Linked DNA regions of Homo sapiens. The protein of the gene in region 7 purifies or fractionates together with the protein of the main gene of each other region. This does not show direct contact. Each region holds a gene or a part of one and is shown on either strand. Other genes may lie near its edges. The genes, in order: SMARCA5, RBM28, DDX18, DRG1, LMNB1, DDX27 and MTF1.

Evidence for each region.
Region 1: the proteins of MTF1 (region 7) and SMARCA5 purify together in Homo sapiens (affinity purification with mass spectrometry, with the first as the bait; one large-scale study listed by BioGRID). This does not show direct contact.
Region 2: the proteins of MTF1 (region 7) and RBM28 purify together in Homo sapiens (affinity purification with mass spectrometry, with the first as the bait; one large-scale study listed by BioGRID). This does not show direct contact.
Region 3: the proteins of MTF1 (region 7) and DDX18 purify together in Homo sapiens (affinity purification with mass spectrometry, with the first as the bait; one large-scale study listed by BioGRID). This does not show direct contact.
Region 4: the proteins of MTF1 (region 7) and DRG1 purify together in Homo sapiens (affinity purification with mass spectrometry, with the first as the bait; one large-scale study listed by BioGRID). This does not show direct contact.
Region 5: the proteins of MTF1 (region 7) and LMNB1 purify together in Homo sapiens (affinity purification with mass spectrometry, with the first as the bait; one large-scale study listed by BioGRID). This does not show direct contact.
Region 6: the proteins of MTF1 (region 7) and DDX27 purify together in Homo sapiens (affinity purification with mass spectrometry, with the first as the bait; one large-scale study listed by BioGRID). This does not show direct contact.

Annotation. Positions count from the first base shown.
Region 1 is NC_000004.12:143,520,202-143,523,701, forward strand, and holds part of SMARCA5 (SWI/SNF-related matrix-associated actin-dependent regulator of chromatin subfamily A member 5), read left to right. Parts: intron 1-1,227; coding exon 1,228-1,394; intron 1,395-3,500. UniProt on the Homo sapiens protein: ATPase that possesses intrinsic ATP-dependent nucleosome-remodeling activity.
Region 2 is NC_000007.14:128,337,409-128,340,908, forward strand, and holds part of RBM28 (RNA-binding protein 28), read right to left. Parts: intron 2,384-3,500; coding exon 2,225-2,383; intron 1,914-2,224; coding exon 1,819-1,913; intron 1,394-1,818; coding exon 1,318-1,393; intron 935-1,317; coding exon 842-934; intron 1-841. UniProt on the Homo sapiens protein: Nucleolar component of the spliceosomal ribonucleoprotein complexes.
Region 3 is NC_000002.12:117,828,191-117,831,690, reverse strand, and holds part of DDX18 (ATP-dependent RNA helicase DDX18), read right to left. Parts: intron 2,743-3,500; coding exon 2,686-2,742; intron 2,403-2,685; coding exon 2,225-2,402; intron 1,110-2,224; coding exon 967-1,109; 3' UTR 1-966. UniProt on the Homo sapiens protein: ATP-dependent RNA helicase that plays a role in the regulation of R-loop homeostasis in both endogenous R-loop-prone regions and at sites of DNA damage.
Region 4 is NC_000022.11:31,416,604-31,420,103, reverse strand, and holds part of DRG1 (developmentally-regulated GTP-binding protein 1), read right to left. Parts: intron 1-3,500. UniProt on the Homo sapiens protein: Catalyzes the conversion of GTP to GDP through hydrolysis of the gamma-phosphate bond in GTP. Appears to have an intrinsic GTPase activity that is stimulated by ZC3H15/DFRP1 binding likely by increasing the affinity for the potassium ions.
Region 5 is NC_000005.10:126,815,136-126,818,635, forward strand, and holds part of LMNB1 (lamin-B1), read left to right. Parts: intron 1-34; exon of another isoform or gene 35-112; intron 113-1,499; exon of another isoform or gene 1,500-3,500. UniProt on the Homo sapiens protein: Lamins are intermediate filament proteins that assemble into a filamentous meshwork, and which constitute the major components of the nuclear lamina, a fibrous layer on the nucleoplasmic side of the inner nuclear membrane.
Region 6 is NC_000020.11:49,222,416-49,225,915, reverse strand, and holds part of DDX27 (probable ATP-dependent RNA helicase DDX27), read right to left. Parts: intron 2,960-3,500; coding exon 2,900-2,959; intron 2,649-2,899; coding exon 2,483-2,648; intron 972-2,482; coding exon 925-971; intron 804-924; coding exon 717-803; intron 1-716. UniProt on the Homo sapiens protein: Probable ATP-dependent RNA helicase. Component of the nucleolar ribosomal RNA (rRNA) processing machinery that regulates 3' end formation of ribosomal 47S rRNA.
Region 7 is NC_000001.11:37,825,093-37,828,592, forward strand, and holds part of MTF1 (metal regulatory transcription factor 1), read right to left. Parts: intron 1-3,500. UniProt on the Homo sapiens protein: Zinc-dependent transcriptional regulator of cellular adaption to conditions of exposure to heavy metals. Binds to metal responsive elements (MRE) in promoters and activates the transcription of metallothionein genes like metallothionein-2/MT2A.

The DNA.
Region 1 (3,500 bases), on a different chromosome or scaffold from region 7:
ACATCTTGTAGATGCGTGCTCTTGGCTTTTGTTTCATTATCTATAAATTAAGAAATGTAATTATGTAAAATATGCATTCACATATGTATCTTGTTCAGCACTTTAAAAACAGTCTGTAATCTTGGAAAACATAAATAACAGAGGCTTGTCATCTGTAGGACATTACTGGGGTTCTAGCATGTTCACAGTCTTGTTACTGTGCAGATTCATTTGCTGCTATGACTGCCATTTGTGACCCAATGAAACACTATAACCATGTGCCTTCCTAATAGCAAATTGGGCTTCAGTTTTTACATTGGTGTGACCTTAAAAAATGATTATGTTCCTTTTAAAAATACGTAGTTGTTACAACATTATGGCATTTGGATACTTCTTGTGTTTGCTAGGTAAAATGTCTTTTTGTAATTTATTCCCAAACTGACATTTTAAACATTTATAGACAGAGATGTTGAGTAGTTGGTTTCCCTGTTTATTGAGCTTTTCTTGTCTTGCTTCTCCTTTGTTTCATCAAACTATTATTGTTTTTGTATAAAGGCTGCCTAATGGCTCCCAATTTCATTATTTTTATGAAAATTTGTCTTCGAGGCTCTTAAGGTTTTTTTTGCCCAAGTAAATTTTTTCCATTCTCTCGGTATTATAATAGGGAACATTCAAAGGGGCAGATGGCAGATACGAAAGGAAGGAATAGTATCAATCCCAATACCGTTTTAAAATTTGTCACAGCCTAACTAATGAATGAGCACTGCATTTTTTCCAGCTTCTGAGTAAATTCACTTGTATTGCACAGTGTTTAATATTTTAAAAATTGTTCCGATCAACTGTATTGAAGTATAATTGACATAAAATAATTTTAAGTTTGTAATTCAATGAGTTTTAGCAAATATTTCTTTAAATACCATCACAATCATGATGCAGAGTAGTTCCATCATCCCCAAAGTTTGCTCCTGCTCCTTTCTAATCAGTTCTTGCTCCCACCTCCTTGCCACTTCTGATCTGCTTTCTATCACTAGTTAGCATTTCATTTAAGTGGAATCATACAGCATGTAGTCTTTTGTGTTTGGCTTCTTTCACTTTGCATAGTGCTTTTGAAACTCATCCATGTTGCATTTATCTGTAGTTCTCTTTTTTTTTTTGCTGAGTTCATTGTATGGAGGCATGCTGAAACTTTGATTTCTGAAGTTTTAATTGATACTCTGATAAAATGTATCTTAAATTTTTTTTTTTCAGCAAACTGACCGGGCAAATAGATTCGAGTATTTATTAAAGCAGACAGAACTTTTTGCACATTTCATTCAACCTGCTGCTCAGAAGACTCCAACTTCACCTTTGAAGATGAAACCAGGGCGCCCACGAATAAAAAAAGATGAGAAGCAGAACTTACTATCCGTTGGCGAGTGAGTAATAGTTTAAACTTCATAGTTCAACCAAACTTATTTTCGATAGTCTTCAGTGGAAGCATAAAATCACTATGATAAATAACTTAAAATTATTTTAGTGCCATTATTTATTTGGCCCTGTTTGGCTTGGCATGATTTAGCCATAAATGTATAAGTATATAAAAATACGCATAATGGTTAGAGCACAGTGGCTCTTGCCTGTAATCGCAGCATTTTGGGACGCCAAGGTGGGAGGATTGCTTGAGTCCGGGAGTATGAGAGCAGCCTGGGCAACGTAGGGAGATCCCATCTCTACAAAAAAAAAAAAAAAAAAAAAAAAGAATAAAACTGCATAACGCCTTATTTTTTGTAGCATTATATAGTTTATGAATTGTAACAATCATGTTGAGTATGGAATTTAGATGTCACGTCATTCCTCAGAGAGGAAACAAATGCAGAGGTTAAGTGGCTTGTTTAACATCACATTGAAGAATGATCCAGACTTGAATTTGAATCTGACTTGGGTGTGCTCTAGGCTCCTCCATCACATACAGATGTTGACAGTATTTTATCTAAAGTGTGGTGTGTGGGATATTGTGATGACTTACATCACGGCAGCCTGTTTAAAATTTTTATTGCATACTTAGTTGTTTTTATATAAATTGAAGTGTCACGTTGTATGCCGTCCTTTGGTGGTGGTTGAAAATAATTCTTACATGTTGAATTTGGAAATTCTCTAGAATTTTCATTCTGGTTGGATAAATAAGATGTTTAATTAGTAATAGTAGATTTAGGGCAGTCTTGGCTCCCTGAAATGGCTTTGTGTAATTCCCAAAGTGAAAACTGTGATTAGTAATTAAAATACAAAAGATTGTTTAAAAGAAGAAGTATCAACAAGGTTAAATTCACTACACAGTTTGTTGAAAGAGGGAAGTATGATCTTCATCTTGAAGGGGTTATCGTTGTAAGCATAATACCTTTTATTTGGGGTATTCCACTCATTCATTATATCTTATTTCTCATCCATTGTGACCAAAGCACTATTTTAATACTTACGAAACTTTGAAGGGACAATTTTGCCCTTCAGCTGTATTTAAAATATTTCAGACTTCAGAAGTTTGCATTAGTGTCATGGCATGAAACTGGAAACTACTGTACTGAATATTGTTATGGGATAGTCAGTATGATGTCTCGAAAAGAAACACTTCTTTTATTCTTTTCTATTTTATTATTATCCTAATTTATCTTTTTTATAAGATAAAAAAGATTCTATTGGAAATAGTAATAATAAATTGTTAGGCTTAATGTATTAAATAGTGTTATTAGGGAAAAAAGTCCTAGTTAACAGATTTCTTTACTCCTCAAACCATCTTAAATGGGAAGCTAATTTACCTAAAGTAATGAGGGTCATAGTATTGTCTTTGGGTATCAGGAATACATTTTTTTAAATCTTTTTTTGTTTGTTTGTTTTTATTGAGACAGAGTCTTGCTCTGTGGCCCAGGCTGGAGTGCGTGCAGTGGTGTGATCTCGGTTCACTGCAAGTTGTGCCTCTGGGGTTCAAGCGATTCTTGGACCTCAGCTGGGATTACAGGCTCACGCCACCACGCCCAGCTCATTTTTGTATTTTTGGTAGAGATGGGGTTTCACCATGTTGGCCAGGCTAGTCTCGAACTTCTGACCTCAAGTGATCCACCCACCTCTGCCTCCTAAAGTGTTGGGATTACAGGCGTGAGCCACTGTGCCTGGCCAGGAATACGTTTTTTTTTTAAGTCATTCACGATTATATTCAATTTTTAACAATAAATGACATCTCAGCTTTTAAGTTTTACAACTGTAATAATCAAACATTTTGAGAGTAACTATAAAGGATATTTTATAAAAAGAATTTAAAATTATCTCCCAGTTTATGGAGAATAAATAGGGGATGGAAGTAGATCTTTGTACTCAATTTCATAGGCTCAGAATGCAGAGAAGTACAAGGAATAACAGACTAGGATGTACTGATTATGATTAGAAGCATATATAACAAACAAGAAGGCCCTTGAATTTCTGAGGAATGCTTCTATCTTGGAAGGCCGCTTATCCTTTTAGCAAGCATGTGGTTTTGGTAGAAATGAAGTTAC
Region 2 (3,500 bases), on a different chromosome or scaffold from region 7:
CTTTCTACATAGCCACCACACCTGGGATAAGATGGAGTAAAAAAATAAAGAATTAGAACTATGTTTCCAGTTAGACTATCAGGAATCAAAACAGGCATTCTGGAATCATCTGCACCCTACCTGGAAGCTAGGACATCTCTACGGCAATAACTTCTTTTTTTTTTTTTTGAGACACAGTCTCGCTCTGTCGCCCAGGCTGGAGTGCAGTGGTGCCATCTCAGTTCACTGCAACCTCCGCCTCCAGGTTCAAGCGATTCTCCTGCCTCAGCCTCTTGAGTAGCTGGGATTACAAGCATGCACCACCACACCTGGCTAATTTTTGTATTTTCAGTAGAGACGGGGTTTCGCCATGTTGACCAGGCTGGTCTTGAACTCCTGACCTCAGGTGATCCACCTGCCTCCTCGGCCTCCCAAAGTGCTAGGATTACAGGTGTGAGCCACCGCACCTGGCCGGCAATAACTTCTTTAGGCACAGTACTTGATAAGTCAATATATAAATCACAGTCAGTTTAATAAATAGCCCACAGATGCTGAACAGTGATATAACCAAGGAGGAATCTAGATACCAACCTGCATCTATCAGCAATTATCTCAGGGACATTTTTCACTAGGGATTTAAAAGGACACTCTCACCAGATAAAAGAAAGAATACTGGCAAGGGTTCTTTCAAGTTTAACCCCAAGATCAAGTTCTAGAGTATTTCACCTAAATAGCTACCGTATTAGCAATGAGACTCTTAATAATGCAAACATCTTTTGAAAATGCAGAAAGTGGGTTACTACACTAATTCACCAAAACACCAGAAATATCTGGGTCAATGATATGGGTATAGAAAGCTTACCTTTTATCTCTTTCATGTTCATGCCTTTGAGAGCTTTACCTGCTTCTAGGAGGTTTTTGAACTGAACAAAACCAAAACCGCGCATCTTCCCATCTGTGTGCAAATGCACAAAGAAAGAAGTGAGAGGCAGCAGGAGGTAGCCAGAATACTAAGAAGTAAATTACTGCAATTCAGGCCCACAAGATGGCCCAAATTCTGCCAGCAGGTCAGGCCCTTCCCCAAAGCAATTGCTTACATCTTCTTACTGAGTATACTCTGACTTGGACTTGGGGAGAGCAAAACACTTTCTCAAACTAACTCGCCTTCTAAAACTAATTCTGATCCAACAGAAAATATCATCAGGGGAATAAAACCATTATTTGGGTTTTCATTAGATGTGAAGCACTGTGCCAAATACTTCATATATATCATATATGTTTGTTCAAGGGTAATATGTTAACTAACGTAATCCACACCAAGTGAAGGTTTATTAGTACCTGGTTTCCTAGGGATATTTACTTCCAGGACAGCTCCAAATTGAGCAAATACTGTCTTCAAGTCATCTTCTGAACACTGAAGCCAAAAGTGAAGAAAGAAAAAGAGAAACACAATCACAGCAAATTAACATAAAACATCAACTACTAAATTCATTAATTATGAAAAACATGAATGTTTACTTTTTTTTATTTTTGATACTAGGACATCAAATGTTTCTAAATAGAAGACATTTTACTTTGTACCTAAGAGGCAAAAACACAGACGTCTGAGAACTTTTTCTACCTTTTCTTTCTCAGTAGTAGTTTCCCCAAAAAGGAAAGCAGCTTCACACTTAGTGCCCTTATTACACAGGCCCACTTTCTGAATTCAACAGGGGTAAGGTTGATTCCCAGAAGGAATTAAGCCCAATTATACCATCTTGGTGAGGAGTTCTACTAATGATCACATCTTGGCTCTAAAAGCCTTCAAAACATGCAATGTTCATTTTCTCTCTCACTTACCTTAAAGCTCAGGTTCCGAATAATTAATCTGGCTTTCTTATCTGCCACTTTGGCTTTTTTAGCCTTCGGCTCCTTCTTTGGGCACTCTGAGTTTTCTAAAAAATAAGAGGTAATGGAATAAGTACTCGAAAATCACCCACTTCTACGCCAGAACATCACAGAAAAAAAAGCTACTGGCGACAGATGGCATTTACCACAGGGTTAAGTGTGGCAATAATACCAAGGAATACCAGATTTTTCCAAAGAACTAAAATGAGTATCACAATACACTGGATGATTTTGGAGATCAAAAAGAAATGCAAAAAGCTTTAAGTTCTAGAAGCTACCTCCATGCCTCCCTCTTTCATTTTCATAGTGCTCCTCCTCACCCTGGGAGAAAAACTTCCTTCAATTACTAGAAACTCACCATTTTTCCCCTTTTCCTTTGTCTTGTTCCTCAGTTTTTTCTTGGCAACAGTCACGTTGATCTTGCAACCTTCAAAGGTGGTAATCTCCTTGAGGGCCCTCTGAACATCTTCCAGCATTGAAAAAGTGACATAGCCAAAGCCTCGACATGCCTTACTCCCTGGAATAATGGAGTGGGGAGGGAGTGGAGGGGCAGTGTGAAAAGGAGAGAGAATCATAAGCCAAGAGCACTAAATGAGTAAATCCTCAAAGCCTAAGCTAGAGGATATACTGCCAACCCATCTTGCTATCAGTTTGCCAAAAGTCTCAGGAGGGCGAGAAACAAGGGTGGTATCAGTGGTTCCCTCCCCACTTTGCTTAGAAACTGTTAGCCTTCCTCCTCTTTTAATTTAGTGTCTTTGCTGTTAGCTCCCCTTCTTCCCCCTTTCTTGATAATCCCAAGAAAACAGAGAATCCATGACATATGAGGCCCTCAAAGAACTCAACATCAAAAAGAACAAAACATCACCAAAGAAGGCAGGAAAGGTAAGTATATGCTATGGTTTGAATGTGTCCCCCAAATTTCATGTGTTGGAAACTTAATCCCCAATGTAGCAGTATTGAAAGGTGGAGTCTTTAAGAGGTGACTGGATCAGAGGACTCTGTCTTCAGGAATGGATTAATCAATTTATGGATTAATGGGTTAATAGATTAATGGGCTATCATGAGAGTGGAGCTGGGGGCTTTATAAGAAGAGGAAGAGAGACCTGAGCAAGCACATTAGCATGCTCAGCCCCCTCGCCATGACACCCTGCACTGTCTGGGCATTTTGCAGAGTCCCCACCAACAAGAAGGCTCTCACCAGATACAGCCACTAAACTTTGGACTTCTCAGCCTCCAGAACTTAAGAAATAAATTTTTCTTTACAAAGTACCTAGTTTCAGGTATTCTCTTATAAGCAACAGAAAATGAATTAAGACAGTATGGTAGCTTCAAAAATCAGAACACAATAATGCAGTTACTCCTCAAAATAGATCAGCAATAAATGCCTGAGGCCCAGACAAAAGAACCTCAAACAATAAATACTGCTCAGAGAGACTGCAGATGTTATGACCACTATTACCAACGCCTTAGCTGTCGATATCAAATTAAACCTTTCCAAAGCAGCTGTGCATTCTTGTCTCATTTTATCTTTAGAACACCTCAAAATAGGTAAAGCAAATATTATCACCCCTTCTTTCCAAGTAAGTAATTTGAGATGGAAGACAGTAAGTGAATTGGTTAATGTCACACAGGGT
Region 3 (3,500 bases), on a different chromosome or scaffold from region 7:
TTTTTTCTCAGAAAGAAGCTAACATTAATGTGTGCTGGGCACCGTCTGACAGCTTGGCTCTAACTCCAAGTAAGTTGCCCTTGTCTTCTAAGTACTCTACAGAGTGCAAAGGCTTACCAAATCCAAACCACCTTGAATTAAACAAATCTTAATGAGGAGCATCATCGTTCTTTGTATGAAAGTCTTTGTTATGTTACCAAATGAAGAAATGCAGTACATTACACCTCTATTGATGTAAATGAGGCTCAAACATCTCAATTCCATCCTCTTCCTACCCCCCAGCCATCAAACGTTATAACTGCTTAGTGACACTTTATTCAAATTACAACCCATAGTTTTTGCTCCAAAAAATGCAACACCTGAGAAAGGCCTGTTGCTTTAAAATCAAGAATCTATAAAAGCAATGCCACCCTAATCTTAAGGTGCTTCTTAGGTATTTCCCAAAGCTCTTTGCTCTTTTATACTGCAGCATTTTCAGGAGGAGTCATTAGATACTGTCAAGGTCCAAGAAATAACTAAAAACAAAAAATAACCTGAGACTCTTTTCTGCACCGCCACCAGCTGCCCAGTACACTAGGTCACCTTTTACAGCAGTGAGCACAGCAATCCATGCCACAAAAATCTTCGCAAAACAAGAAGGAAAGGTACAAAAAGAATTATATTAAAATGGTAACATACACTTGTATGAGGGAGGGATATTTAAAATTAAAATATTATCATCACAAGAAACACCAGATATTCCTTGCTCTGCCCTTGGGCAACCAAGAAACTTAAAGCCTGTTTTATATCCCAGAAATAAAAGAGAGACGTGATAGAAGTAACAGTGCTCAGTGCTTGCAACCCAAGTCAATTTATACTCTTGTTAGGTAAGTCCAAATTCTAAAGTCTACAAAAATCCTGTTAAATCAAGGGGAAAAAAAATTCATTTTAGGACAAAGTTATTCAAGATGAAAGGAAGGCATGTGTTCAGTGAGAGAACTGCCTGCTGTCAGATGATTTCTTGCTAATGTGTTTAAAGATTTTGGATTTCTCAACTTTCTTGGTTTTCTGGTAGCCAAATCCACCACCACCTCCTCGCTTTTTCTGCTTGCCTTCATTACTGTTGACGTCTGGAGGCAAACATTAAGGAAATCAAGCAAAAAAGATAATGAACTCCAATCTAACATCTACACAGAGAAAAAAACCGGCATGAACACTACTGTTCCTCCACAACCCCATTCTCAACAATGAAAATGTGGGAACATAAGCCTATGCAATAAATTTCCAGAAAATTAGGAGTGGCCACGTGACTGTGGACTTAAATTAGCAGGTATGATTTTAAACTTCGGTGTGTAATAGTCATATTAATTATTTCTTCCACACGATGAAATTCATGACAGTGAATAAGGATTTATGAGTTTAATCAGGAAGTTGGTAGGAGCACATTAAAAAAACACCTCCTGTGTCAAAACAAATGACTATCATTTCTCTTCGGAATTGATTTAGGAATGCCTAAGTGAAGGAGCTGCTCTTCCTTCCACAGGACTCGACATACATTCATTTCAGCTGACATTTACTCAATGCTGACAATGGGGATGGTGACCCAAAATTTGGTCCTCTAGTTCCCTCAGAAGTTACCCCTATGGCACTGAAGCACAGGCCTCATTTCAGCTGCTCAGTTTCTTCTTCTGAAAGGCACAAATTATAAATCACAACTGAAGCAACTGGAAGTACTCCTGCCTTTTATCTTAAGCAACACCTAAGTTTTATTTTCTTTTGCTGAACTTGCCACTTTCTTGCATAAAATCCTTCAGGGGTTCTAAGATGATTAAAACTCCTTGAAAGGTCCCATCCTCTCTTTAGCTTCAAAACACCCCATTCACCTAAGTACCCTGCACAGTGCAGCCTCAGCAAACACTGAAGTTTTGATTTTTTTAACCTGTGTTTCTGCCTGGAACACACAACTGTCTCTGTCTCTCCTTGACAGTCAAATTTCTTTGTCTTTTGAAGGCTCAAGGCATAAGCTGCCTTGTCCCTGTAACCCCATCCTAATGATTAAGCCCTGCTTACCCCATCCAACCTCTATGTCCTGTGCTAGCACAGAAAAGCAGACATCGACCAGGGTGAACACTGGAGCCTCCAGTCTGAGCCAGAACACATACCAATCCACTGCAAAGCCCCAAATGCCCCTCTGTCAAGCTTTTGTTCCTTAGTCACAGGATAACTTCATTAAAGAAAAGGATACTCAGATCAACGAAGGGAGGCACCTTGAAACCAAATGACAGAGCAACCTGAGGCAAATTTAGGTTATTAACATTAAAGATCTGTTTCAGAGAATGGGAATCATAGGCTCGTATGTATGACTTATATGCTTCCTGGGCTGACTTATGAAGAAAGTAATTCTTTTCAATCAATTTCTCAAGCTGAAATAGAAAGAAACACTGGTTTTAATAAACAAAAACAAACAAAAACCTCCAAAACACCAGATTTTAAATATCCTAGAGCAAAGCCACTCCATGGAAAACATTTAAAGAGGGCACAGAGTGGTGATAACTAGAATAGCAAGAAACCTTATACACTACACAGCCTGATCCTCACTTTAGGACAGGGTAGACTTCAAAGGACAGTGATTGCCCAGTGAATCACTACAAACAGAGTGCTGGGACAAGGTTCCTGTTTACTCACAAACGTTTAAAAAGCACATACCTGAGACTGAATGTCAGAAATTTTAGACCAGGAAAAGTCAAATTCACTTAATGGAACCTAGAAATCAAAAGTATTAAGATTAGTAAACCAGGATGATCAGCATTCCGATACTGGGTACTGAAGACAGGGAAGGATGAACCGGCCTATGAAATTCCCTCAGGACAGAAAGGAAAATCTGCTTTTTCTAGTCTCCCAATGTTGATGGGAAAGTTACATCTTTGCTCTGCTGAGTTAGGCAATCTGCACTTCTTTCTTTCTGAAAGGCAAGGAACTGGATAGGGACACAGTCAGTAAAGCACTTTTCTGTAAGAATCTCTATAATCCTGACTATTTGCAACCATGAATCAGCTTGAAGCTTCTAGTCAGAAGGGCCATCAGCCCCTTTTCTCCATGTCAGAAGAGGGGCCCTAATACCCCCACAGTCCTGTATTGAGGCTTGTGACACTGGAGGCCATGATGACCACAAACTCCTACAGGATGGATCTGCCATCAGTTATCACTCATTAGATAACTAGAAAAGCAACAGGCCTGTGCCAGGTGCTAGAGAGAAAATAGGTACCTAACTCATGGACTCTGCCCTCAGAGAGCTTGCCGTCTTGAGGGGGAGAAAGATAAGTAATGAAATGTCAACCTGTAGATTCTGGATATTAGCCCTTTGTCAGATAGGTAGATTGCAAAAATTTTCTCCCATTCTGTAGGTTGCCTGTTCACTCTGATGGTAGTTTCTTTTGCTGTGCAGAAGCTCTTTAATTAGATCCCATTTGTCAATTTTGGCTAGGACTAATATCCAGAATCTACTAAGAACTTAAACAAAT
Region 4 (3,500 bases), on a different chromosome or scaffold from region 7:
GAAGATTTATACCAGAAGTCAATTTGCTTTGTATGCCATGAAATCAGCACCTATTTGCCCAAGAGTTGACACATTTTCTGTTGCCCAGGCTGGAGTGCAGTGGCACAATCTTGGCTTACTGCAACCTCTGCCTCCCGGGTTCAAGCGATTCTCCTCCCTCAGCCACCCCAGTAGCTGGGACTACAGGCACATGCCACCATGCCTGGCTAATTGTATTTTAGTAGAGACGAGGTTTCCTCACCATGTTGCCTGGGCTGGTCTCGAACTCCTGAGCTCAGGCAATCCGCCCACCTCAGCCTCCCAAAGTGCTAGGATTACAGGCATGAGCCACTGCGCCCACCCTTGGTTAGCAAATTTTTAACCAAATTTATTGAGGTACAATTTTTTTTTAATTGTATCCATGTTAAAGCACACAGTTCAATAACAAATGTATATACCTGTGTAACCACCAAACCAATCAAGACATGGAATATTTCCATCACCTACAGCATTCCTTTGTGCCTCCTTTCAATCTTCCCCACTATTGCCAGCCAACCACTGATCTGCTTTCTGCCACCATAGTTTGCACGTTTTAGAATTTCATATAAATGGAATCATATAAAATATATTATTTTGGCCTAGCACAGTGGCTCATGCCTGTAATCCTAGCACTTTGGGAGGTTGAGGCAGAAGGATTGCTTGGAGCCAGGAGTTTGAGACCAGCCTGTGCAACAAAGTAAGATTCAATCTGTATAAAAAAAAAAAAAAGTAGTCTTTTGTGCCTGCATATCTTATTTTTATTAATATATATTTATATTGACAGAGACAGAGTCTCGCTCTATTGCCTAGACTGGAGTGCAGTGGCATGATCATAGCTCACTGTAGCCTTTAACTCCTGGCCTCAAGCAATCCTCCTGCCTTGGTCTCCCAAACTGCCGAGACTGCAGGCATGAGTCACAGTATCTGGCCTTTTTCTATATTAAAATTCATTTGTCAAAAATCCTGCTTCCAGCTGGGCACGGGAGCTCATACCTATAATCCCAGCACTTTGGGAGGCTGAAGCGAGAAGATCACCTGAGGTCAGGAGCTTGAGACCAGCCTGGTCAACATGGTGAAACCCTGTCTCTGCTAAAAATAGAAAAACTGGCCGGCGCAGTGGCTCACGCCTGTAATCCCAGCAGTTCGGGACGCTGAGGCAGGAGGATCACAAGGTGAGCTGATTGAGACCATCCCGGCCAACATGGTAAAACCCCATCTCTACTAAAAATTCAAAAAATTAGCCGGATGTGGTGGCACATGCCTGTAGTCCCAGCTACTTGGGAGGCTGAGGCAGGAGAATCTCTTAAACCCGGGAGGCAGAGATTGCAGTGAGCTGAGATTGCGCCACTGCACTCCAGCCTGGGCAACAGAGCGAGAATCCATCTACAAAAATAAATAAATAAATAAATAATTAGCTGGCCATGGTAGTGGACACCTGTAATCCCAGCTACTCAGGAGGCTGAGGCACGAGAATCACTTGAACCAGGGAGGCAGAGGTTGCAGTGAGCCGAGATCATGCCACTGCACTCCAGCCAGCCTGGGCAACAGAGCGCCATCTCAGAAAAAAAAAAATATTCTGCTTCCATCAACTTTCTAGTTCCTCATTTTTTAAAATTCTCTTTTTTGAAGAGACAGGGTCTCGCTTTGTCACTCAGGCTGGAGTGCAGTCGCATGATCATAGCTCATTATAACCTCCACCTCCTGGGCTCAACTGATCATCCTGCCTCAGTCTCCTTGAATATCCGGGACTACACATGTGTGCCATGTCACATGGCTATTTTTTTCTTTTTTTTAATTTTTATTTTTGTAGAGACAGGGTCTTGCAATGTTGCCCAGGTTGGTCTCGAACTCCTGGCCTCAAGTGATCCTCCTGCCTCAGCCTCCCAAAGTGCTGGGATTACAGGTATGAGCCATTGCACCTGACCCTGACCCCTCATTCTTTTTTTGAGATGCAGTAGAGACAGCATTTCACCATGTTGTTCAGGCTGGTCTTGAACTCCTGACCTCATGATCTGCCCACCTCGGCCTCCCAAAGTGTTGGGATTACAGGCGTGAGCCACCATGCCCAGCCTCAGTGGTAGACTTTTTTTTTTTTTTTGAGATGGAGTTTCACTCTTGTTGCCCAGGCTGGAGTGCATTGGTGCGACCTCAGCTCACAACCTCTGCCTCCTGGGTTCAAGCAATTCTCCTGACTCAGCCTCCCAAGTAGCTGGGATTACAGGCATGGACCACCACTCCTAGCTAATTTTGCATTTTTAATAGAGACAGGGTTTCTCCATGTTAGTCAGGCTGGTCTCAAACTTTCAACCTCAGGTGATCCGCTCGCCTCAGCCTCCTAAAGTGCTGGGATTACATGCATGTACCACCATGCCCAGCCTGATTTTATTTTATTTATTTTATTTTTTTGAGATGGAGTCTTGCTCTGTCATGCAGGCTGGAGTGCAATGGCGTGATCTCGGCTCACTGCAACCTCCGCCTCCTGGGTTCAAGCTATTCTCCTGCCTCAGCCTCCCAAGTAGCTGGGACTACAGGCATGCATCACCATGCCCAGCTACTTTTTGTATTTTTAGTACAGACAGGGTTTCACCATGATAGCCAGACTGGTCTCAAACTCCTGATCTCAAGTGATCCACCCCCCTCAGCCTCCCAGAGTGCTGCAATTACAGGCATGAGCCACCAAGCAGCCATGATTTTATTTTTATTATTATTATTTTTTGACACAGAGTCTTGCTCTGTCGCCAGGCTGGAGTGCAGTGGTGCAATCTCGGCTCACTGCAACCTCTGCCTCCCAGGTTTAAGCGATTCTCCTGCCTCAGCCTCCCGAGCAGCTTGGGACTACAGGCGCGCACCACCACACCCAGCTAATTTTTGTATTTTTAGCAGAGACGGGGTTTCACCACCTTGGCCAGGTTGGTCTCGATCTCCTGACCTGGTGATCCACCCGCCTCGGCCTCCCAAAGTGCTGGAATTACAGGTGTGAGCCACCATGCCCGGCCTTATTATTATTATTATTTTTTTTTTTGAGACAGGGTGTCTGTGTGCTGCCCAGGCTGCAGTGCAGTGGCATGATCATGGCTCACTGCAGATTGACCTCCTGGGCTCAAGAGAACCTCCTACCTCAGCCTCCCGAACAGCTGGGACTACAGAAGCATACCACCACATCCAGCTATTTTTTTTTTTTTTTTTGAGACAGAATCTTGCTGTCACCAGGGTGGAGTGCAATGGTGCAATTTCCGCTCACTACAACCTCTGCCGCCTGGATTCAAGCGATTCTCCTGCCTCAGCCTTCTGAGTAGCTGGGACTATAGGCACACGCCACCATGCCCAGCTAATTTTTATATTTTTAATAGACACGCGGTTTCACCATGTTGGCCAGGATGGTCTCGATCTCTTCATCTTGTGATGCACCTGCTTCAGCCTCCCAAAGTGCTGGAATTACAGACTATGGAATTACAGGTACCTGCCACCATGCCTGGCTAATT
Region 5 (3,500 bases), on a different chromosome or scaffold from region 7:
TTTTTGAATATTTTCCTATTGTTTGTCTTAATAGTGTTTGTTGCTGAGTCATATCAGTTTCATCATGCTGCCTATTAGGCCATAAGAATTTCCTTTTGGTTAAATAACTCAGGTTAGTGAAGTACTTCTTAAATTTTACTTAAAATTGACATGGCTTTAAAATACTGGTTTTACAAGATATATTTAAATAATATATAGATGGTAGCAGTGTTATGTTTTGGAATTAGAAATTTTACATTGCTTATAGCATCTCTAGATTTTTGACTTGGGACCAAATGAATTGGTTGGTTAGAGTCTGCTTGCCTTAGAGAAGAGTACAGTATGGTACTTAAAAACACCTCTAACTTTTGTTTTTCTAACACCCAGATTCTGGAGACTTTGGTTGCAGCTAGACCTTAATAAACCAGTACAATTACATTACATACTATAAAATATTTAAAAACCCCAAGATCATCAGAAGTCATAAAATTTAGGGTTAGTGGCAAGATCTGAGAGATCATCTAGATAGTTAGAGCTCTTCATTTTCCTTATGTGGAAACTGGTTTAGTGAGATTAGTTACAGCTTGCTTATAGCCTCATAGGTAGTTTCAATGGCAGAATTAGAAAGGAGAATCTAGGTCTAACTTCTCATACTGTGTTCCTTATATTTCACTACACAGGTGTAAGTGCAGCTACTGAAAATAGAATTTAAATATTTCTATTTAAAATACAGAATGATTCAGAGTAACTTTAAAATTTTTATACCTAGATTTTGATTTTTCCCTCTTAAAGAGCTCTACAACATCAAAGGCAGTCAAACAGAGACATCATTGGGTTTATAAATCTCGGCTCAGGTTATCTGTGAATCTTGGGTAGTTTATATCTCTCATCAACTCTCCTTTAGATTCTACCTTTTTGCCCATTCAAATATATCTTCTACCTCTGATATATGAAATAAAGGGAGGCATTTTGAACTTACATGACTTTTTTTTTTTCTTTTGGAGAAAAAGAAAATACAAGGAACATGGTAGCGGGGAAATGGATTTCTCCATTTATAGCATGATTTTTGCAAACGCAGTTAAATGCAAGTTCTCTGAGGTTCAGGGACTACCTTTGTAATATCCATCTTAAGAGGAGTGCCTGTCTAAATAGCATGTCAAGTCATATACTACTCTGGAATTTAATTAATTGATTGGTCAATTTTTTTTCTTTAAAAATATATTTTTGTGTGTGCGTGTGAACCAGGCACCCCCTCTGCCCCCAAATAGGTTTACAGTGACTCTTGATTATTTTTTAAATAACCTTGTTATTTTGGCATAATTTTAGATTTACAGAAAAGTTGGCAAAGTACTATAGACAGTTCTTGTTTTCCTCTCACCCATTTTCCCCTGTTGTTAGCATCTTATGTTACCATAGTATATTTGTCAAAACTAAGAAACTGACATTGGTATATTACTGTGAACTCGTCTCCAGACTATTTGGATTTCACCAGTTCTTCTGTTATCTTCTTTCTGTTCCAGGTGCCACATGCCTCCCCTGGTCTGTGACAGTTTCTTGGGCTTTCCTTGTTTTTTATGAGCTTGAGTCTTGAGTAAGATTGTCCAGGTATCCTGTAGACTGTCCCCCAATTTGGATTTGTCCGGTGCTTTTCACGTGATTAGACTGGGGTTTTGGGTTTTAAGTGCCCGTTTTGTCACATCGTATCAGGGATTGCACGTATGTGATAACCACATGACATCACTGGTGGTGTTTGGTTTAAGATAGTGTTTGTCAGGTTTCTCCACTGTCAACAGCGCTACTATTTTTCCGTTCCCATACACTGTTCATGGAAAACAGCTCACTAAGTCCAGCCTACCCTCAAGGGTGAAGGACAGGGCAGGACTTAAGCGCCACATTCTGGAGGGAAATCTACATTTATTAAATGGCATTCTTCTGTAACGATTTATCCATTCCCCGTTTGTTTGGTTTGTTTGTTTGTTTGTTTGTGTCCGTATGGACCATGGGCATTTACTTTATACTTTGGGTTGTAAGCTAATACTGCAGTATTTACTTTTTTGGCTTAAATTGTTTCATATTTGGCCACTGGGAGTTCTGTCAGCTTGGCCACTATGTCCCATTGTTTTTTGAGCACTTTGTTGCTTTCTGGTACTATAACATGCTCTAGGCTCATCTTGCATTTTCCCTGCCCCAGTCCTAGAATTATCCAGTCTCCAAGGAGCCCTGGTTCTTGTTATTGGAGAATGGTATATAGAAATTAAGATCTGGGCACTGAGTGTGCTCACTGGTACTGGGTATCACTGCTTCTTGGCCCTCTCACCGATAAAAGTGGGTAACATTTTATGTATGCTAACCCATGTGTATGCACATATTTATAACTTTTTCTGTCTAATCATTTGTGTTAAGATAAACATGAATTCATACAGATGTCTCTGACTTGAATCTAGTAGGACAGCATTCAATTTTGGCTTCCTTTCTGACATACCTGTATCTTTTCTCTCTCAGAGTGAGAAACCTGGTTTTTATCATCCATTTACTTATCTGTTCAGCCCCAGTATATGTTAAAGCAGTTTCAAAATTTTGAACCTGTACTGCTGTGAAAAGTAAATTTACCAGCAAGAGTACAGTTTTTATGTATTTGGTAGCTCCTTTTTATCTCTAGCCTTCTAGATTTAGTTTTTGCACATTAGATGCCCTTTCTCTCCTGCTCTGTTGCAGGTACTTGTGATTCTGAGGGCCTAAGCTATCCATCAGTCTTTTTGAGTTGTCACTTTCTGAGGCTACTGAGATGAATTCTGTCATGGAGAAACACAGAAGAATAATTACCCAGCGAGCCACAAGGTTTCTAAGATGAACTTTCTGGTGTAGGATGTGTGATTTTTAATTTTTTTATGCCAAATATACAGCTTCTATATTCACAGTAATACTTTACAAATCACCCTATATTGTGTGTCCTTTGTGTGCTAACTGAACATGAGATAGCCCAGCAATCCTAAAGGGACACTAGGTAGTGCCTTCCACATAGTAACCAGAGTCCCTTTGCCTTGGTTTCTGAATATTCCTCAGCAGTCTGCTAAAACGTACTTTTACCCACTCTTAGGTTTATTTTGTCAGTCAGTGTTTATATCTTTTTTTTTTTTTTTTTGAGACAGAGTCTCGCTCTGTTGCCCAGGTTGGAGTGCAATGGCGTGATCTTGGCTCACTGCAACCTCTGCCTCCGGGGTTCAAGCGATTGTCCTGCCTCAGCCTCCCAAGTAGCTGGGATTACAGGCGCCCACCACTACAACCTGCTAATTTTTTTTGTATTTTTAGTAGAGACGGGGTTTCGCCATGTTAGTCAGGCTGGTCTCAAACTCCTGACCTCAGGTGATCCACCTGCCCCGGCCTCCCAAAGTGTTGGGATTACAGGCGTAAGCCACCACACCCACCCAGTGTTCTTATCTTTTTAAGTTCTTTATTTAATTTATACTTTTGGAAGTAAAGGCTTTGTAAGGGAGCCAGACTTGACTTTTACCAAAACCACA
Region 6 (3,500 bases), on a different chromosome or scaffold from region 7:
ACGAGTGCCAGGAGGTGTCGTCAGAGAGGGCCAGAAGGGGCAGAGCCTTGTAGGTCAATATAAGGACTCAGGCTTCTAAGAAGAGTGAGACTGGGAAGTACTGAAGGACTCAGAGAAGAAGAGGAGGGACACGATGGAACTCATTGCTTAAGAGAGTTCTCGGCCGGGCGCGGTGGCTCACGCCTGTAGTCCCAGCACTTTGGGAGGCTGAGGCGGGCGGATCACGAGGTCAGGAGATCGAGACCATCCTGGCTAACACGGTGAAACCCCATCTCTACTAAAAATACAAAAAATTAGCAGGGCGTGGCAGCGTGTGCCTGTAGTCCCAGCTGCTGGGGAGGCTGAGGCAGGAGAATGGCGTGAACCCGGGAGGTGGAGGTTGCAGTGAGCCGAGATTGTGCCACTGCACTCCAGCCTGGGCGACAGAGTGAGACTCCGTCTCAAAAAAAAAAAAAAAAAAAAGGGAGTTCTCTGGCAACTGTATGGACAAGAGTTGAGGGAGGCAAAGAGAGAAGCAGAAAGTCCAGTTAGGGGTGGCTGCAATAATCCCATGGTTGCCAAAATAAGCCACTACTGGCCAGGCACAGTGGCTCAAATCCCAGCACTCTGGGAGGTTGAGGCAAGAGGATTGCTTGATGCCAGGAATTTGAGACCATCTTGGACAACATAGCAAGACCATGCTTCTACAAAGAAAATTTTTGACAAGAAGCTGCTACCTTCAGAAGAGGGCGGGAAAGGTTCATGTCCTGGAACGAGAGGTTTTCATCGTACTGAGATGCATCTTCAAAAAATCCTCCTGCTTCCTACACCAGAAAACCAAAAGAGAGAAGAGAATTCAACAAAAAGAGCCAAGAAACCCAAACGACCTTAAACTCCTTTCGGTTTGCCAACAAGCTGCATACTGTCTTGCAGCCCCAAGCTCACCTGTCCTTTCTTCTTCTTCTTCTTCCGATCCTTTACTTTGAGTGTATCTATGGAGAAAAACTTAGCTGATGACCACGGCTCAGACTTACAAAGCACTTGCATCCTGCTGGACACTGTCCTAAGTGCCAATGCCACACTTCAGCCTCTGAGGGGTGACCATCGTCAACCTTGTTTCACAGATGAGGACACTTTGTGGCAGCATGGTGAAGTAACTTGCCTAAGGTCAGAGAGAAAGCTAACCCAGTGACTCTGGTCCAGAGACCAGGCTCTCGACCACTACACTGTATTATGATGCTTTAGCACACATTTCTGCAAGAAATACTTATTGAGGGCGGAAGCAGTGGCTCCCGCCTAAAATCCCAGCACTTTAGGAGGCCGAGGCAGGTGGATCACCTGAGGTCAGGAGTTCGGGACCAGCCTGTCCAACATGGTGAAACCCCATCTCTACTAAAAATACAAAAATTAGCCAGGTGTGTTGGCGTGTGCCTGTAGTCCCAGCTACTTGGGAGGCTGAGACAGGAGAGTTGCTTGCACCCGGGAGGCAGAGGTTGCAGTGAGCTGAAATTGTACCACTTGCACTCCAGCCTGAGTGACAGAGTAAGACTCCATCTCAAAAAAAAAAAAAGAAAGAAAGAAATACTTATTGAGCACCCACTATGTGGCTGGACCCATCTGAGTATGTCACCCCAAATGAGTTTGTATCACAGTGGCATCTGGCAGCCGCATGGGGCTAGATGGGAAAAGAGTAAACTACCTATGAAGTACAACAACCCAAACAAAATCCCAAGAGAAAAGAAAACCTAAAAGAAAGGATTCAGCGGGCACAGTGGCTCACGCCTGTAATGCCAGCACTTTTAGAGGTCAAGGCGGGAGGACTGCTCGAGCCTAGAAATTTGAGACTAGCCTGAGCAACAAAGCAAGACCCCGTCCCTACAAAAAAAAAAAATTAGCCAGGCGCAGGGGCATGCACCTGTAGGCCCAGCTACTTAGGAAGCTAAAGCAGGAGGATCACTTAAGCCAGTGAGTTCAAGCCTTCCAGTGAGGTATGATTGCACTACTGCACTCCAGCCTGTGGATGGAGTGAGACCACATCTCTTTTGTTTTGTTTTTTGAGACAGGGTCTCATTCTGTGGCCCAGGGTTAAGTTCAGTGGGACAATCTCAGCTCACTGCAACCTCTGCCTCCCAGTTTCAAGTGATTCTCGTACCTCAGCCACCTGAGTGGCTGGGATTACAGGTGCATGCCACTACACCAAGCTTATTTTTGTATTTTCAGTAGAGATGGGGTTTTACCATGTTGCCCAGGCTGGTCTCAAACTCCTGGCTTCAAGCGATACACCCACCTCAGCCTCCCAAAGTACTGGGATTACAGGCATGAGCCACTGCACCCAGCCAACATCTCTTAAAAAAAAAAAAAAAAGAAAGAAAGGAGTTCAATGTAGTAGGCAGAACAGCTTAAAGATAAACTGTGCAGAAGAGTGGAGGAAACCCTACAAAGTAAAGGAGGATGCCTTCTGATCTCCTGTCCCCATTACTGACACCTCCGCCGTAACGTCTACCTGCTTTGGTGAGGATGTTCTCATCAGCTGATGAGTAGTCAGTCTCCGAGGCTTCATCTTCTGAGCCTTCCTCATCATTCTCTTGAAGGTCTTCCTGCTCCTTTGGTTCAGAGCCTTCCTTTGCTTCTTTCTCCTTTTCCAACTTCCCAGACTTGGCTTCTTTATCCTGGGAAAAAAATTAAAGTGAGGGTGATGAGAAACTTCTAGAAATCCAGAACCTAAGTAGAGCGATAGGAAGCTCTCCGGCCTGAATGAACGGCTGTGGGGATTCTCAGTACAGATTCACAGCAAACACACAGAAGAGTGCGCCTGCCCCAGCCATGCCCCGCTCTATAAGGGCTTCCAGAGAGATGCTGGGGTCGTGGTGAGAGTAAAGAGTGGGCCCTAACAACGAAAAATAGCCACTTTTCTTCTCACCTCTGTTTTCCTTTTCTTTCGAACTTTCTCAATCTTCTCATCTAATGTAGTGGCTGCCCTCTGCAGATAAAAATAAAGAGGTGAAAAAGAAATTTTCATTGAAACATCGAATAAGAGAACAAACTCTTCATAATTAACTTGAAAAAGAAAAAATTTTGGCCTTCTCTGAAAATACATATACATATTATATATATAAAAATTTTAGGCCGGGCGCGGTGGCTCACGCCTGTAATCCCAGCACTTTGGGAGGCCGAGGTGGGTAGATCACCTGAGGTCAGGAGTTCGAGACCAGCCTCAACATGGAGAAACCCTGTCTCTACTAAAAAAATACAAAATTAGCCGGGTGTGGTGGTGCATGCCTGTAATCCCAGCTACTCGGGAGGCTGAGGCAAGAGAATTGCTTGAACCTGGGAGGCGGAGGTGGCAGTGAGCCGAGATCACGCCATTGCACTCCAGCCTGGGCAACAAGAGCAAAACTCCGTCTCAAAAAAAAAAATTTTTTTAATCCTCTCCAGACGATCTTGAAAATGCAGTGCTGGTAAGGCTGAGCACAGTGGCTCATGCCTGTAATCCCAGCTACTCAAGAGGCTGAGGCAGGAGA
Region 7 (3,500 bases):
GAGGGAAAAGAAATACGTGAAGCAAGGGAGGTGGGTTGTGGCATACTGGAGAGAATGCATGCCAGTCACCTCAAGGGCTTCAGCCGAATGCTGCCATGGGAATATGCAGGCCAGGGATTACCAGAACTCAAGTGGCAAAATTTTGACTTTCTTTTTTTTGAGACAGGGTTTCTTTACTCTGTTGCCCAGGCTGGAGTGCAGTGGTATGATCATAGCTCCCCGCAGCCTTCAACTCCCGGGCTCAAGTGATCCTCCCACCTCAGCCTCCAAGTAGCTGGGACCACAGGTATGGGCCACCACATCTGGATGATTTTTTAATTTTTCTGTAGAGATAGGGTTTTACTATGTTGTCCAGGCTGGTCTGGAACTCCTGGGCTCAAGAGATCCTCCCACCCCAGCCTCCCAAAGTGCTGGGATTATAGGTGTGAGCCACCACATCAGACCCAGAAATTTTGATTTTTACATGAAATCTACCAACTTGTAAATAAAAGCAAGTACAGCTGACCCTTGAACAACATGCATTTGAACTGCACAAGTGGACTTATACTTGGGACTTTTTTCCACTTCTGCCACCCCTGACACAGCAAAACCAACCCCTCCTCTTCCTCTTCCTCCGCCTACTCAATGTGAAGACGATGAGGATGAATCACCTTTACAATGATCTACTTCCCCTTAATAAATAGTAAATTTATTTCCTCTTCCTTGTGATTTTCTTAACATTTTTTTTTTTCTAGCTTACTTTAAGAATACAATACATAATACATATAACATTCAAAATATCTGCTAATCTAAACTGTTTATGTTATCAGTAAGGCTTCCAATCACAGTAGGCTAAGGCCATTGCTAGCTCAGTTTTGGGGGAGTCAAAAGTTATACTAGGATTTGGTTGTGCAGGGGGTTATGGGTTGGGAGGCCAGCACCCCTAGCCCCTGTGTTGTTCAAGGGTCACATGTAATTGAAAATAACTTAAACACACTGTATATACCAAACTAAAACCTCTTTTTAGGGCAGATCTTGCCCTAGTGCCAACATACGTTTTAAGGTCATTTTGTAACAACTCTGCTTCTAGAAGGCAGAACTCAGAAGGATCACTTTGGGATTGGGTAGAAGTGTGGTGATGAGTGGGGCTGTCCACCAATCTAGAAGTGCTCAAAGATTAAATTGCCCACTGGAGCCAAAAGGGAGCAATTCTTCTTTTCCCCCCCTTTTTTTCAGACGGGGTCTAGCTCTGTTATCCAGGCGGGAGTGCAGAGGCGCAGTCAAGTCACTGCAACCTTGAACTCCTAGGTTCAAGATCCTCCCCTAGACCTCCCAAGTAGCTGGGACTACAGGCGCACGCCACCATGCCTGGCTGCTTTTTAAAAATTATTTTTAGTAGAGATAAGGTCCTGCTACGTTGCCTAGCCTGGTCTTGAACTCCTGGCCTCAAGCAGTCTTCCCAAAGCACTGGGATTACAAGTATGAGCCACCACCACCAGCTGATGATTCTCTTCTACGTCTATCAGCTGAAGGAGGGGAAATTCAGTGATTCCTTTTTTTTTTTTTCTTCATTTCAGTGATCCTGATTGCCAATATGATAGAAGGTGAAGTCAGAAATTATGTGAGGCCAGGCGCAGTGGCTCACACCTGTAATCCCAGCACTGTGTGGGGCCGAGGCAGGCAGATCGCTTGAGGTCAAGAGTTCGAAACCAGCCTGGCCAACACAGTGAAACCCCGTCTCTACCAAAAGTACAAAAATTAGCTGAGCATGGTGGTGCGTGCTTCAAATCCTAGCTACTCGGGACGCTGAGGCAGGAGAATTACTTGAACCTGGGAAGTGGAGGTTGCAGCGAGCTGAGATCAAGCCACTGCACTCCAGCCTGGGTGATGGAGCAAGACTCCATCTCAAATCTATGTGGGACAACTTCCAACTTCCAGTCCGGACAGAGTTAAAACTCATAGGCCAATAGTGTGACTTTCAAATTTTCATTGTGACACAAAGTAAGAAATACATTTTACACTGTATATACATACATTCTTCATATTATATACATATCCATATGTGTAACTGAAACAAGTCTATGAAACAGACCTTATCCTTACTATGTGCAATGTCCTCTGATTTTTTTTCTATTCTATTGATGTCTTTGAAATGCTGATTATAAACCACTATTTTAAAACCCAATGAAAAGGTGCAATCCAGTTTGAAAAATAGTTGACTAACAACTACCACTGAGCATAAGCTTTGCAACCTCCTCATAGTTGTTATTATTATTATTATTATTATTATTATTATTATTATTTGAGACAGAGTCTCGCTCTGTTGCCCAGGCTGGAGTGCAGTGACATGATCTTGACTCACTGCAAGCTCCACCTCCCAGGTTCACGCCATTCTCCTGCCTCAGCCTCCCAAGTAGCTGGGACTACAGGCGCCTGCCATCATGCCCGGCTAATTTTGTTTTTTGTATTTTTAGTAGAGATGGGGTTTCACCGTGTTAGCCAAAATGGTCTTGATCTTCTGACTTCGTGATCCACCCGCCTCGGCCTCCCAAAGTGCTGGGATTACAGGCGTGATCCACCCTCCTCGGCCTCCCAAAGTGCTGGGATTACAGGTGTGAGCCACCACGACCAGCCATAGTTATTACTTTTGTTCTGTTTATAAATCATTATAGGTAGTAACATAATTAAAAACGAATGAGCTATATTTGTCAATGATATTAGGTTGGTGCAAAAGTATTTGCGGTTTTTGCCATTACTTTCAATGGCAATTACTTTTGACCAACCTAATACCTCAATAATACTAGGGAAAAGAAAAGGAATGGGCTTGTGTGCCTCCAAAACATATGTACAAAAATGTTCACAGCAGCACTATTCATAATGGCTCCAAACTGGAAACTATCCAAAGGCCCAACAGGAGAAAGAACAAATATTGGTATATTCATTTAGTGTATTGTGGTATATTCACTTAGTGTAATATTGTTCAACAAGAAGAATGAATGACCTGTAACTGTATGTAATAATATGGCTTAATTTCTTAAACATAATGTTATGAGAAGAAAAGCCACACATAAACAAGTATATGATTCCAATCATAAAAGCATTAAAAAAAAAAAAACAGGAAAAACTAATCTTAGTTGTTGTAAGTCAGAATAGTGGTTGTCTGCAGGGAGAGATCATGGCTTTTGGGGGTATGTGAGGGGGGGGCCTCTGGGGTGCTGGGAATGTTATTTTGTTTGTTTTCTTTTGTTCTGAGACAGAGTTTCGCTCTTGTCACCCAGACTGGAGTGCAATGGCACGATTTCAGCTCACTGCAACCTCTGCCGCCACGGTTCAAGTGATTCTCCTGCCTCAGCTTCCCGAGTAGCTAGGATTACAGGCGCCCGCCACCACACCCGGCTAATTTTTGTATTTTTAGTAGAGACGGAGTTTAGCCATGCTGGCCAGGCTGGTCTCAAACTCCTGACCTCAGGTGATCCGCCTACCTCAGCCTCCCAAAGTGTTGGGATTATAGGCGTAAGCCA